2 separate regions of the Homo sapiens genome follow, and region 2 is linked to region 1. Evidence: fine-mapped expression QTL. Tissue or cell type: whole blood. Region 1 holds a variant in brackets; the other region holds the start of a gene. All regions are shown on one strand. Distances are from middle to middle.

The links. PIP is the estimated chance that this variant, and not a neighbour inherited with it, causes the effect.
Region 2: it holds the start of TTN, and the variant in region 1 is fine-mapped to the expression of TTN in whole blood (TOPMed, PIP above 0.99). The same link has a PIP of 0.9 or more in blood mononuclear cells.

What each region holds. Positions count from the first base shown.
Region 1 is chr2:179,048,890-179,056,449 of GRCh38, reverse strand. It overlaps CCDC141 (coiled-coil domain containing 141), which reads left to right and starts at 6,313. Exons shown (of 24, transcript NM_173648.4): 1 at 6,313-6,610. The coding sequence starts at 6,509. RefSeq lists enhancers at 6,237-6,316, 6,327-6,576, 6,767-6,816. The variant T/C (reference allele first, on the strand shown) is at 3,586.
Region 2 is chr2:178,803,815-178,811,374 of GRCh38, reverse strand. TTN (titin) reads left to right here and starts at 3,952. Exons shown (of 363, transcript NM_001267550.2): 1 at 3,952-4,163; 2 at 6,720-6,823. The coding sequence starts at 6,733.

The DNA of each region.
Region 1 (7,560 bases):
AGGAGGGGTAGGAACACTGACCTCTTATCTCTGCGCCCCGACCTCTTATCTCTGTGCCCCATCCCTTATTTCTATGCCCCGCCTTTTTATCTCTGTGCCCCAACCCCTTATTTCCACACCCCAACCCCTTCTCTGCTTTTCTGGAAGGCAAGAACCCCCCACCCCTTCTCCGTGTCTCTACTCTTTTCTCTGGGCTTGCCTCCTTCACTATGGGCAAGCTTCCACCTTCCATTCCTCCTTCTTCTCCCTTAGCCTGTGTTTTTAAGAACTTAAAACCTCTTCAACTCTCACCTGACCTAAAATCTAAGTGTCTTATTTTCTTCTGCAATGCCGCTTGACCCCAATACAAACTCGACAGTAGTTCCAAATAGCCAGAAAACAGCACTTTCAATTTTTCCATCCTACAAGATCTAAATAATTCTTGTCGTAAAATAGGCAAATGGTCTGAGGTGCCTAACGCCCAGGCATTCTTTTACACATCGGTCCCTCCCCCTAGTCTCTGTTCCCAATGCAACTCACCCCAAATCTTCCTTCTTTCCCTCCCACCAGTCTCCTCAGTCCCAACCCCAAGCGTCGCTGAGTCTTTCTAATCTTCCTTTTCTACAGACCCATCTGACCTCTCCCCTCCTCGCCAGGCCGAGCTAGGTCCTAATTCTTCCTCAGCCTCCGCTCCTCCACCCTATAAATCTTTTATCATCTCCCCTCCTCACACCTGGTCCGGCTTACAGTTTCATTCCGTGACTAGCCCTCCCCCACCTGCCCAGCAATTTACTCTTAAAAAGGTGGCTGGAGCTAAAGGCATAGTCAAGGTTAATGCTCCTTTCTCTTTATCTCAAATCAGATAGCGTTTAGGCTCTTTTTCATCAAATATAAAAATCCAGCCCAGTTCATGGCTCGTTTGGCAGCAACCCTGAGACGCTTTACAGCCCTAGACCCTAAAAGGTCAAAAGGCCGTCTTATTCTCAATATACATTTTATTACCCAATCTGCTCCCGACATTAAATAAAACTCCAAAAACTAAATTCCAGCCCTCAAACCCCACAACAGGACTTAATTAACCTCGCCTTCAAGGTGTACAATAATAGAGGCAGCCAAGTAGCAACATTTCTGAATTGCAATTCCTTGTCTCCACTGCGAGACAAACCCCAGCCACATCTCCAGCACACAAGAACTTCCAAACATCAAAACCACAGTGGCCAGGGGTTCCTCCAGAACCGCCTCCCCCAGGAGCTTGCTACAAGTGCCAGAAATCTGGCCACCAGGCCAAGGAATGCCCGCAGCCCAGGATTCCTCCTAAGCCGTGTCCCATCTGTGAAGGACCCCACTGGAAATCGGACTGTTCAACTCACCTGGCAGTCACTCCCAGAGCCCCTGGAACTCTGGCCCAAGGCTCTCTGACTGACTCCTTCCCAGATCTTCTCAGCTTAGCGGCTGAAGACTGATGCTGTCCGATCTCCTCGGAAGCCCCGTAGAACATCACGGACGCCAGGCTTTATGTAACTCTCACAGTGGAGGGTAAGTCCATCCCCTTCTTAATACGGAGGCTACCCACTCCACATTACCTTCTTTTCAAGGGCCTGTTTCCCTTGCCTCCATAACTGGTAGGTATTGACAGCCAGGCTTCCTAAACCTCTTGAAACTCCCCAACTCTGGTGCCAACTTAGACAATACTCTTTTAAGCACTCCTTTTTAGTTATCCCCACCAGCCCAGTTCCCTTATTAGGCCGAGACACTTTAACTAAATTATCTGCTTCCCTGACTATTCCTGGACTACAGCTACATCTCATTGCCACCCTTCTTCCCAATCCAAAGCCTCCTTTGGGTCCTCTTCTTGTATCCCCCCACCTTAACCCACAAGTATAAGATACCTTTACTCCCTCCTTGGTGACCGATCATGCACCACTTACCATCTCATTAAAACCTAATCACCCTTACCCGCTCAATGCCAATATCCCATCCCACACCATGCTTTGAAAGGATTAAAGCCTGTTATCACTCGCCTGCTACAGCATGGCCTTTTAAAACCTATAAACTCTCCTTACAATTCCATTTTACCTGTCCTAAAACCAGATGATCCTTACAAGTTAGTTCGGGATCTATGCCTTATCAACCAAATTGTTTTGCCTATCCACCCCACGGTGCCAAACCCATATACTCTCCTATCCTCAATAGCTCCCTCCACAATCCATTATTCTGTTCTGGATCTCAAACATGCTTTCTTTACTCTTCCTTTGCACCCTTCATCCCAGCCTCTCTTTGCTTTCACCTGGACTGACCCTGACACCCATCAAGCTCAGCAAATTACCTGGGCTGTACTGCCGCAAAGCTGCACAGACAGATCCCATTACTTCAGTCAAGCCCAAATTTCTTCCTCATCTGTTACCTATCTCAGCATAATTCTCATAAAAACACATGTGCTCTCCCTGCTGGTAGTGTCCGGCTAATCTCCCAAACCCCAATCCCTTCTACAAAACAACTCCTTTCCTTCCTAGGCATAGTTGGATACTTTCACCTTTGGATACCTGGTTTTGCCATCCTAACAAAACCGTTATATAAACTCACAAAAGGAAACCTAGCTGACCCCATAGATCCTAAATCCTTTCTCCACTCCTCTTTCCATTCCTTGAAGACAGCTTTAGAGACTGCCCCCACCCTAGCTCTTGCTGACTCATCCCAACCCTTTTCATTACACACAGCAGAAGTGCAGGGCTGTGCAGTTGGAATTCTTACACAAGGACTGGGATCGCATCCTGTAGGCTTTTTGTCCAAACAACTTGACCTTACTGTTTTAGGATGGCCATCATGTCTCCGTGCAGCAGCTGCTGCCACCCTAATACTTTTAGAGGTCCTTATAATCACAAACTATTCTCAACTCACTCTCTACAGCTCTCATAATTTCCAAAATCTATTTTCTTCCTCACACCTGATGCATATACTTTCTGCTCCCCGGCTCCTTCAGTTGTACTCACTCTTTGTTGAGTCTCCCACAATTACCATTGTTCATGGCCCGGACTTCAATCCAGCCTCCCACATTATTCCTGATACCACACCTGACCTTCATGACTGAATCTCTCTGATCCACCTGATGTTCACCCCATTTCCCCTCATTTCCTTCTTCCCTGTTTCTCACCCTGATCGCACTTGGTTTATTGATGGCAGTTCCACCAGGCCTAATCACCACACACCAGCAAAGGCAGGCTATCCTATATTACAAGCCACTAGTCCGCCTCTTAGAACCTCTCATTTCCTTTCCATCGTGGAAATCTATCCTCAAGGAAATAACATCTCAGTGTTCCATCTGCTATTCTACTACTTCTCGGATTATTCAGGCCCCTTCCCTTCCCTAAACATCAAGCTCAGAGATTTGCCCCCACCCAGGACTAGCAAATTAGCTTTACTTAACATGCCCCAAGTCAGGAAACTAAAATACCTCTTGGTCTATGTAGACACTTTCACTTGATAGGAAGATACCTTTCCCACAGGGTCTAAGAAGGCCACCACGGTCATTTCTTCCCTTCTGTCAGACACAATTACTCGGTTTGGCCTTCCCACCTCTACGCAGTCCGATAGTAGACTGGCCTTTAT[T/C]AGTCAAATCAGCCAAGCAGTTTTTCAGGCTCTTGGTATTCAGTGAAACTTTTATATCCCTTACAGTCCTCAGTCTTCAGGAAAAGTAGAACGGACTAATGGTCTTTTAAAAACACACTTCACTAAGCTCAGCCACCAACTTAAAAAGGACTGGACAATACTTTTACCTCTTTCTTTTCTCAGAATTCAGGCCTGTCCTCGGAATGCTACAAGGTACAGCCCATTTGAGCTCCTGTGTGGACGCTCCTTTTTATTTAGCCCCAGTCTCATTCCAGACACCAGACCAACTTAGATTTTGCCCCCAAAATCTTGTCATCCCTACTATCTTCTGTCTAGTCATACTCCTATTCACCATTCTCAACTACTTATACATGCTCTGCTCTTGTTTACACTGCTGGTTTACATTGTTTCTCCAAGCCATCACAGCTGATATCTCCTGGTGCTATCCCCAAACTGCCACTCTTAACTCTTGAAGTAAATAAATAATCTTTGCCGGCAGGACTATGCTGAATCTCCTTAGGCACTCTCTAATCAGATGTCCTAGGTCCTCCCAATTCTTAGACCTTTAATACCTGTTTTTCTCCCTCTCTTATTCCATTTAGTTTCTCAATTCATATAAAACTGTATCCAGGCCATCACCAATAATTCTAAATGACAAATGTTTCTTCTAACAGTCCCATAATGTCACCCCTTACCACAAAGTCTTCCTTCAGCTTAATCCCTCCCACTCTAAGTTCTCATGACGCCCCTAATCCCGCTCGAAGCAGCCCTGAGAAACATCCCCCATCATCTCTCCATACCATCCCCCAAAATTTTCACCGTCCCAACACTTTACCACTATTTCGTTTTATTTTTCTTATTAATATAAGAAAGGAATGTCAGGCCTCTGAGCCCAAGCTAAGCCATCATATCCCCTGTGACCTGTGTACACATCCAGATGGCCAGTTCCTGCCTTAACTGATGACATTCCACCACAAAAGAAATGAAAATAGCCTGTTCCTGCCTTAACTGATGGCATTATCTTGTGAAATTCCTTCTCCTGGCTCATCCTGGCTCAAAAGCTCCCCTACTGAGCACCTTGTGACCCCCCCACTCCTGCCTGCCAGAGAACAACCCCCCTTTTTCCTTTACTTACCCAAATCCCATAAAACGGCCCCACCCCTATCTCCTTTCGCTGACTCTCTTCTCAGACTCAGCCCACCTGCACCCAGGTGAAATAAACAGCTTTATTGCTCACACAAAGCCTGTTTGGTGGTCTCTTCACACAGATGCAAGTGAAAGAAGGAGCCTGCCTGCAACCTTCCAGGTCAGTTACCTCTTTGCAAGCTCTCCAGCCCTGCCATAAAATGAAACCATTTGCAATAGTTGCTACATCATAGCTTGCTCGGCATCTGCTTTCCTGAGCTCGCTCCAATTGTTCCCTTCATGGGGTCAGGTGAAGTTCGTGTTGCATAGGGACTAGGATCTAGGTATGGTTTCCATCTCACTGGGGCAGCAGGCAGATGCTGAGCGCAGAGGACATGGGTGGTGGCTACACAGCTGCAGAGCAGCCATGACATGCTCTTGGAAACAAAAATAATTGAACACTGAAGTATGTGTAAAAGTACTTTTCCCCTTTGAATCAAGAATATGATCATGAACCTTAGCAAAACAAAGCAATGGAGCTGACTCAGTCTTCTAAACATTGGCCCTGAACCTGAACCTACTATTAAATTGGGCTAAAAGGTTTACAGAGCAAGTGGATTCATTAAAACTGTTTTTTGCTATATTCTCTGTTGTGGCTTTGTCCCAGAGATTTCCAATGCTTCCAGCAGCTTTGGAGTTAGTAACTCTGATATGTTTGCATCTGACTTCTGACCTAAACTTTAGTGTTATTTTCAGCTGTTCTTTGACAGGGAATCCAACAGCTGCTGTTTAATACCACAGACAACTTGTGACACAGGCTGAGTTTCTAGCAATAGGATTAATCTACCAATGTGGGGCACTGATTTGAAGCTGGCTATAATTTTCCTGAACAGGAGGTGGGGGTAGGGAATAAAAAGCCTGAAGCACAGTACTTTCCTTTTTGTTTTTGTTTTTAATTGCAGCAAAATATATGTCTTAATAACTTTTAACCACACAGAAAACATTTTCTTGCTGCAATTAAAAGGTAACAGCAAAGTATTTTGCTTTCTCATGGTATTAATAACTGAACTTGAAAACCTTGTCCAATGGAGCAGAATAGTCACAAAGAAAATCTGAAATGATAGGCACCTATTTATAAATGCTGGTTGAAATATTTTTTAAAAATTCCTAAGAAATCTGAGGCTCTGAGAAAATGTGGCTATTCCATCTAAACTTCATTTAGCAAAGAACAGTAAGTTTTAGAAAAGCAGATTAATCTAAAAATGTGTTTTAAGCAATTTGTGACTTAACCCCAAGACAAATACCAAAACTTTTTTAAAGTACACTTTGGTAGTTCTCTTTGCATCAGAGAGATTTCAAAAATCTTGAAAAGATTGATAACCAGGTCAAAGACTTACTTGTTTCAAAGTCCATGGTTACAATGGCATAGTTTCGGTGGCAAAACTAATTTGGGTTGTCAGGATGTAATTTTTTTTTCCATTTGTTATCAAACATCAGCTGATAAGGAAAGAGCTTGAAGCTGTCCTCCACATTTAAGATAACAGCAAAAATAACAGGCACTTAGTGTCACCATACTAGGGGCGTGGCAATTCTCTCTCGTTCGCTCCTTTCTCTCTCACGATAAACTCAATGGGGTTGTCTATTTTTAACCTCCTGTTCTTTCCTTTTGGCAGAGTAATCAGTGTGAGCTGAGCTCTTTCCCTGAATGAATCCAAGTAACCCTGGCCTTCTGAAATGACCAGCAGACACACAACTGTCCAGAGGCTGCCCAAAGTATAAACTCTGGTTCTAAAGTACCATGTCCAGCCAAGGAAGTCCTAGTGTTGCGCTTTCTACGACGACAGTCAGTTCAGTTGCTGTGCAGGCTGGGGACTCCAAAATCGTTATAGCTGTCATAAAGGTAAGCTAACAACTTCCTTTTTTCTGTGCGGCTGTGGGCTTCTAGCTGTGTGTTGAAAACCCTAAAGAACATTCCATGCAATCGGCAGGACACAGCATAGAGAAGACAACGCAGCAAGCACTCTTACTGCTTTCTAAAATGGGCTACTAAGAGAAACCTCTACAAGTTTCAGCAGTTACCAGAGATTCTCTTTCCTTTCAGTCAGCCAGAAAGCATCTATAGCAGCTTGATTTAAAAAAAAAAAAAAAAAGAAAAGAAAGAAAAATAAAGAAAAGAAAACCTCTAGCATATACTGTCAATTTGGTCTTTAAAAGCAAGGCATTGGTAACTGGAAGTTCATGATTGCCTGACTAAAGAGTCCAATGGACCTGTGGAATGCTTGTGATTTTTGAGAGTGGATGTGATGGAGGTGGGAGGAGGCAGGTCCCGACAGACAGGGGGAGGGCACTGCTTTAAGCACGATGGAACTCAGAAAACACCAAGTAAAGGGCTCCGACATGTGCCCTTTGCCACACTGGTTTTGACATGGTAAAGAAACTACTAAATCCTTGTCCAGTAACGAAGACCATGCAAGGAAAGGTACAAAAGCTTTGTGTCAAATTTGCTCTTAACAGCAGGAAGTAGAAGCCACTTAGGGTTTACAATTACTGCATGTTTTATGACAACCCATTTGCCCATTTGCAAAGATGACCACACATCTTTAGGCTGAAGAAGAACTCCATGATTTTATTCTCCATGGAAATGCCCTGTAAAAAAAAGCTTTCAAGCACTAGGCTTGGGCTTTAGATGATATTCCACCTAAATAATTCAGTGTTTAATGAAGGGAAAGCTGGCAAACAAGCTGATGGTCACAAACCAGTTACTTTCAGGTCCCCACCAGGTTTAATTGAATGACTTTTCTGGCCTTTTGTTAGAGCATGGACAGCAAGCCATGTTTACTTTAACTTAAT
Region 2 (7,560 bases), 250 kb after region 1:
GAAGTCCAACTTATTTCTTTTTTAAGATTCCAGTATTTCTTGGGCTTTGCTTTAATCCACATATAAGTGTCATGTCACCTTCTGAGGGCCTTCAGGGAAGGACGTGACATGTGCTTTATTCCATGAGCTCACTTTTGGACTTCTCAAAGATTTCTTAGAAAATACTATCTTGTATATTTTATCAGGTAGTCAGAGATAATTGAGCAAATCAATACTACCAAGCACAGAAATTATTTTCTTAGTGTCATGCCTGGCAGCAGCAAACAAACAAAATGCCTACCATGTGTCAGATTCTCATGGTCCTGGACACTGTCACGTTCATTCTGTCATTTAATATTCCTAATAACTCTTTGAAGTCGAGATAATAATCTCCAATTTGCAACTGACAAATCTGAGACAGAGATTCAAGTGAGTTGCCTAAACCCAGGTAGAATAGGAGAGAAATTCCAAGTGCCCCTAACAGCAGTGCTACTGAGACATTCAAGACTTTAATTTTTTTATCTTTCTTACTTTGGTAAAAATATCTTACGTGTCTGAAATAATCTTTTTGTATTCGATGTGGTGTTAAATGCATCTGTGACTATTCGTACACTTGTAAATAGTTGTGGAAACCTAATTTGATCTTGCTTCTAAAGAAATTATAACTGGATGTAGAAAAAAATGGGACAATAAGTCTTTTAAATTGTAAGCAACAATTTCTTGCCTCCCACATTCCCAGTGTAGCTTTTTCCGCCTCTATAACTCAAAGAACACGACTGTCTTCCATTAGAATAAATTGTTTTTGTCAGCACGCTTTTCCCTGTGCACTTCTTGAATTTGCTTTTCTATTTCCTTGTTTAAAAATAGCTCCATGATGAGCCTATATTTCAGCTTTGATATATTTTATGAGTGGAAAGGAAATTACAGATATTATATCACTTAATATTACTGTGTTAACAAAAATGTAAACTCTTAGAGGGCAGGTATTTTTGTGTGTTGTGTGCATTGCTATGATCTCTGTGCCTAAACTGTGTTTAATACAATAAAAGAACACACAAAAAAATTTAATCAGTCATAAGATACATTAGTTTTACTCTCTTCTAGTATCCTTGCATTGGCCTTCAAAACTGTACCCATTTCTCGAATAACTCCCAGTAAGTCCTTCCTTTGTAAATGGTCCTATATAAGGTAAACAAAGTCTGACTATGTAGTTGGAGTTACTGCCTGAGTTTTACATATATCCTAGACTTGGTCTCAGTCACAGATTAATGAGCATTCACTAAGAGTTGATGTAGACCATGATCTCTAAGAGCACAATAATTCTAACTGTCTTTTCTTGGTCAGCTCTGCCTAGCCATCACTAGCACAATGCCCAGCACAAAGTCACCACTCAGTAGATATTTGTCAAATCAATAAATAATGACAGAATCCAAAATCGTAATAATTTATCCCAGTGCTCAGCACTGACTATATGTTTAATAAATATTTATTGAATTTCATTGAATATTGTGCTTAAAGAGAGAATCATGCCATGCATTCCAAATTAAGTAGGCATTACATTTGAATTATCAGCTGTTTGGGATTATCTGTGTGGCTCCTCCCCACTGTTAGGGTGGTAAATTGAGATCTTACTCCATCAGCAAACTCCCCAAATCTGCCTAGTATTTGGTTTCCACAAGACTAGTTTACTAATTCTAACGATGGCATATTTAATTTTAAAACTAATGCATACCATGATATCATATACTGTCCATTACTATTCCAATAATAAGAACTCTTTTTCAGAGCAGCATATTAGTTATTTACTAACTGGTCCCTTCTTTCCTTTTCTTTCTTCTTTTTTCTTTTGTTCATTCATTTTTTTCTTTTCTTAATTCTGAATGTCACATAAACATATAAAGGCCTAAAGGCAAGGATCTTGACAATATTGCAAGGTGTATTAGGGTTCTCTAGAGGGACAGAACTAATATGTATATAGGGAAGAATATATACATACATATATATATTTATATAAAGGGAAGTTTGTTAAGTATTAATTCACACAATCACAAGGTCCCACAATATGCTGTCTGCAAGCTGAGGAGCAAGGAGAGACAGTCCAAGCCCCAAAACTGAAGAACTTGGAGTCCGATGTTCGAGGGCAGGAAGCATCCAGCTCGGGAGAAAGATGTAGGCTGGCAGGCAGGGTCTAGAAAAGTCTAAGAACAGTGACTAGACAATCAGCTTAAGAGGACAGACACTTGACTTTATGTTTATAACATATGGTCCATCTTCTTGGCTCTTGAGTTACCTGAATTGCATCATGTCAAGATGACGCAGGCTTCCAGATTATAGTCACTTCTTCCCTCTAGTTCCCGTAAGAATTAAAATGATTTGACTTTAGTTCCAACAAACATAACGTAACATTAATGTGCTTCACATTAGGTCAAATGAGTCTAAAAATACACACACGCACACTACATACCCACACACAAATATGCACAAACGTATCTTAAATAGATAGCCAATTGGTGAACACTCCAAAACAGAAAGATCATACATTTCTAGTGTTTCTTTGCCTTATGACTGGCAGATTCTTTGTAACACAAATCTCTCAGTGGGAATAATTTTCAAAGTATATAATATGAAACCAGTTGTTTCTGAATAAAGCAATCAAATAGAATTATAGCAGATGCCATCTATGGGGGTGGAAATGGTGCCACCAATACAGATACCACCACTTAAGTAAAGGAGAAAAATGTTTAAATAAGTACATGGCGTCATCTTGTTAACATAACTATACTACATTAGTTGTCAGTAAATTTAAACTGTTAAACATTAACATATTAATCACTATATAAATAAATACAAGATATGAAATACTCAAGAAATTGAAAAGTTTAATGCATGGCCAAATTCTTCCATAACAGGGAATATTTTTATTACAGACATAAAGAAATTTAACTTAAATTAAAAATTTTAGTCTCTTTTATTGATAAAAGTCTCTTTCCATTATCAACAAGACAATTTTCCTCCCTCTAAGTAGAGTTTCACAAATCTCTCAGCTGAGTCATTATAAAGATCTTTTGGTGTGCTCTTTTTTATTTGAAATATCTCTTGCTTGAAATTAAATTCAGTCCTAAAATAGCAACTATATCACCTCCTATCCACTTCCCATTAGTAACAGCAAACTCCAGAGATTAGCAGAACAGCATTCATGTGTCTGGAAAAGGAACCTTATGGATGATTTAAGCATAAGACCTGGCTACTTACTAAGGAGCAGTACACACATATTTGTAAATATTAATGCCAGACAAAAATGAAATCTGACAAAGGTGAAATCATTGTACTGTACAGACTAACCTAAGCAGAGTTCCAATTTTGCCTTTCAACATTATATCTTGCAGGGTTGTATAAGCAATAAGCTCATTAACATCAGTGTAACTGTCCCCGAAATACAAGTGGATTCTGGAGAATGTAGGTAGTACAAATGAGCTCTCTTCAACGTTAAGGTTTATAGCAACTGATTCTTCAGAGAACATGAAGCCTTATGCTTGAGATAAATTTCCTCATCTGCTGTCATGATTGACAGGTCCATTTGGTTTGTTTTATGGGGGAAGGGAACAGGACTGGGGCCTGACTCAGGGCACAGTCCTCAGGTTTGGGGCTCTTTTGTATGACTGCCCACAAGTGCTATCTACTGTCACACCTCTTTAAACCTGCATTTTCGGATTTTAACATCAGCAACCAATGCTCTTCTCTGAGCCTCAACACAGTTATTCTTTAAATACAGTTCTATTTCCTTGGTGAAGTCTCCTTTGAGGTACTAAATTTAGCACTGTCAATCAGAAGAACAGGTGGTATGTGACACTACCAAATAGGTCCTCTCCCATCATGCTTTCCTAAGACAGCCAATCACCCAGGGCCCTGCCTAAGGATGTGGGGCTGTCAGCAGATCTGGTGAATATAAGGGCAGGCCAGACCCTGGCTCTTGAGCAGTCGTGCATTCCCAGCCTCGCCTCGGGTGTAGGGATTGCATAGAAAAGCAAAACTACACAGTCTTGACTGTGTAGTTTTGTTTTTAGGATTAGAGGCTCACCGATTCATGTCGGAGATGGTCAGAAAAACCAACTCTCCATAGGACGTCGTTTCAGAAGCAACCTTGGGCTTAGTCCCACCCTTTTTAGGCACTCTTGAGAAATCAGGTGAGCAGCAACTTTTCTTATTTTAATAGTAGAGTCACTTTCTTATTGATCTCTGGCTCTGGATTATTTGTGTGTGCTAAATGCCTATGTACAAGTGTTTGTATGACTATTTCTTGCCAGTGCTGACCCATTATTTAAATCTGCTTGTTAAATTCTATTTTAAAATGTCTGAACATTTTTCCTTAAAAAGTTGAAAGCTTTATTATATCAGCTAAATGATTCCATGATTCAAATTGTTTAAGTTCACTTAATATTCTAAAAGTTGAGGTCTGAAATGTTGAGAGAAATGTTTACTTCTTTTCTAGACTCTCTTTGCCTGTTGAGAATGTTCAAGGTTATATTACTCAATGATAAAGTTAAGCACACCAAGAATAGCTCTGATAAAATGCATGTGGTATCAGCTACACCCTGATGACTTTTTAAGGGAATCAACTGCTGAGGTATCAGTTGCAGGACAGTGACAGAACACTTGCCTGCTGTCAGTCAACCTTGGAGAGTTTAGGAGAGTTTATTTTAAGAGCATGACATTTTAGACGCATACCTTCAGCCCCAGTTAGACAAAGGCCTGTGAAGAGCAAGTGCTAAGGCAATAAAATTTACCTAGACAATAGGAATGTAAGATCAATTTAAGCTGGTTAATTGCAACATAGTTGGAGATTTGGAATAAAATGATATAATTGTTTTCTAAAATATTCAGAATCTCTTCATGCATTTTAACTCAGCACACAGTCCAATTATATATTTTGAGATAAATGTTGACACTAAGAAGGGTAAGAAATAATGTTTAAAGGAAAGGTTTCTTACTTCTAAATACACTTTGATTTCTCATCTTCCTAGAATTTGATTACTAATTGTCAATGCCTGTAAATACATAGATATATAATTAGGTATTCTATGTCTAAGAGGACAGCTATTTTTAGATATACTAACTTATAAACAGACAAAGTTAGACACAGAAAGTTGTTCATCCCAAAGATAATATGCTACAAAAAGGAGTTTCTGACAAAAAAAATTTATGAAAGCTTTTGGATATTATCTGATTTTTCCAAATATAAATTTTATTGTCTCAGAGAATGCTGGTTTCATTTTTTTAACTAAGTAGAAGGTTACAGTAAGGAACAGAATTATCACTAAGAAGATTATTGCTCCATGAAGTTTTAGTAAACAAAGAATTTAATGAAAAATAGTAATGAAGTGATTGACAATTCAGAAATGTTCTATTTCAGAACAGAATAGTCATGTTGAATAATTAGGTATTTATGCATCAGAAAATTCTTCACATAATGTCTCTGAAACTGATAGGCAAAGTACTTTCTTGCACTTAACAAAATGACTTAACTGCAAATTTTATATTCGTTTCTTTGATGTTGAATATTTTACTTTATGAAAGCATAGGCCTTTTCACTTCATCTACATTTTACACCAGCCTTCCATTATTCAAAGTTTGCAAATTGTTCCATATTAAGAACTCAAGCCAGCATTTTTCTTTCAGAACTATAATAAACTTTGGCCTGTTCACTAAAATTTAAATTTTTCTGAATATTTACTTCAGCAGTAACAACATTTACTGCACAGTTACAGTATGAAGAAATGTTAAGAAATAGAAAGCACCGTATGCCGTCTACAAAAAGCTTGCATATTTGATAAGGCTTGCCAAAGCTTCTCCAGTCAGGAAAGAGATTACAAAGTTCAGATTTTTACTTCTGGCAACTATTTTAAGTAATCAGATAATGTCTGAATCAATGTCAACTTTATAAATATAGAGTGAACGAAAAATATTGGGGAGAAGGAAAATTTTTAAAATAATTTTCACTTACTAAGCTGATGCAGAGGTTTATTTATTTTAATTTTTTTTTTTTTTTTTTTTTGAGACAGAGTCTCATTCTGTCACCCAGGCTGGAGTGTGGTGGCACCATCTTTGCTCACTGCAACCTCCACCTCCTGGGTTTAAGCAATTCTCATGCCTCAGCCTCCCAAGTAGCTGGGACTACAGACATGGGCCACCACGCCTGGCTAATTTTTGTATTTGTAGTAGAGACAGGGGTTTCACCATGTTAGCCAAACTGGTCTCAAACTCCTGACCTCAAGTAATCCTCCCGCCTCGGCCTCCTAAAGTGCTGGGATTACCAGCATGAGCCACCACGCCAGGCCCAGAGGTTTATTTTACATTTATCACATGTCTTGTCTCTCTAATTACACTTCACTAACCCTGCATTGCTGTGGTTTTCTTCTTCAACTCTGAACCTGGTTTTCCACCATTGGTAAGACTGTATATTCCCTCTTTGACCACTAGGGTTCATTCCTTGTTCTGTTTGGCTAATACTTTTTTCCATTTCCCCTTACACTTGCTACTTTGGGTTAGGCTTTAAGTCAACTCAATGATGAACTATGCAAAACTGTTCAAGCCACAAAAGAGAAGACCTGCCCATCACTCTAGGCCCACAGATGACCTATGGAGCAATCCATTTGGAGAAACGTGTGTCTCTGCTATCTGCAAAGCAGCTCCAGAGTGACCCTTAGCTGGGACACCCTAATTTATTTTCTCTTCTTTTTCAGAGTGCCTAGAAAGATGACAACTCAAGCACCGACGTTTACGCAGCCGTTACAAAGCGTTGTGGTACTGGAGGGTAGTACCGCAACCTTTGAGGCTCACATTAGTGGTAAGCTCACACATTCACACTTTTGTTTTTTTTTCCTTTGCCTCCTCTCCAGTAAGTTAACGTTGCTGCAGGACTTGACGCCAAGTTTAAGCCCTGCTTTCACTTCGGAAAATTAGTCCAACACTATGGAAAGGTCATTTTAAGGGTATACCATTCACAGAGTACTGACAAAATCTGACAATATAATGGCTTGAAATGTTTTATTCATATTTATTATTCCACAAAGCAAAAATAATTAGTGTTGGATTAAAATTGCCGTTAGAATCCAGCAACTAAATAGGACCAAATTTAGTCATTCTATATTTGGGCTCAGCTGCAGAGCCAGACTGGAAGCCAAGAACTCAAGCCCAATAGAAGCCAGCCACAGAGCCATGGGGTAGGCAGTCTGGGCTGCCTGCTCTGGACACCTGAACTTCAGTTGGTTCACACGCAAAATAACAGTGCATCTAATTTTCCTCAGAGGCAGAGCTGTTCAGTAATTAACCAACTCCTCATTATTTTATTATTTTATTTTCAATCTTTATTGAGTGATTCTAATGAATTAAAAGACTTTCCAATCGTTTTGAAATGACAGAAAATAATATGCTTCTCGGGTGTCTCTATTTAAAAGGAAGCAAACACTAACCCTAGAATTTTATCTGAAAGGAAGTTCATCTCTTTTTTGCCTTCTTTTTCTTCCTCATAACTCAGTTTATGGATGGTTCAAAAAAATGCATGGTATCATCTTATGAAAAAAT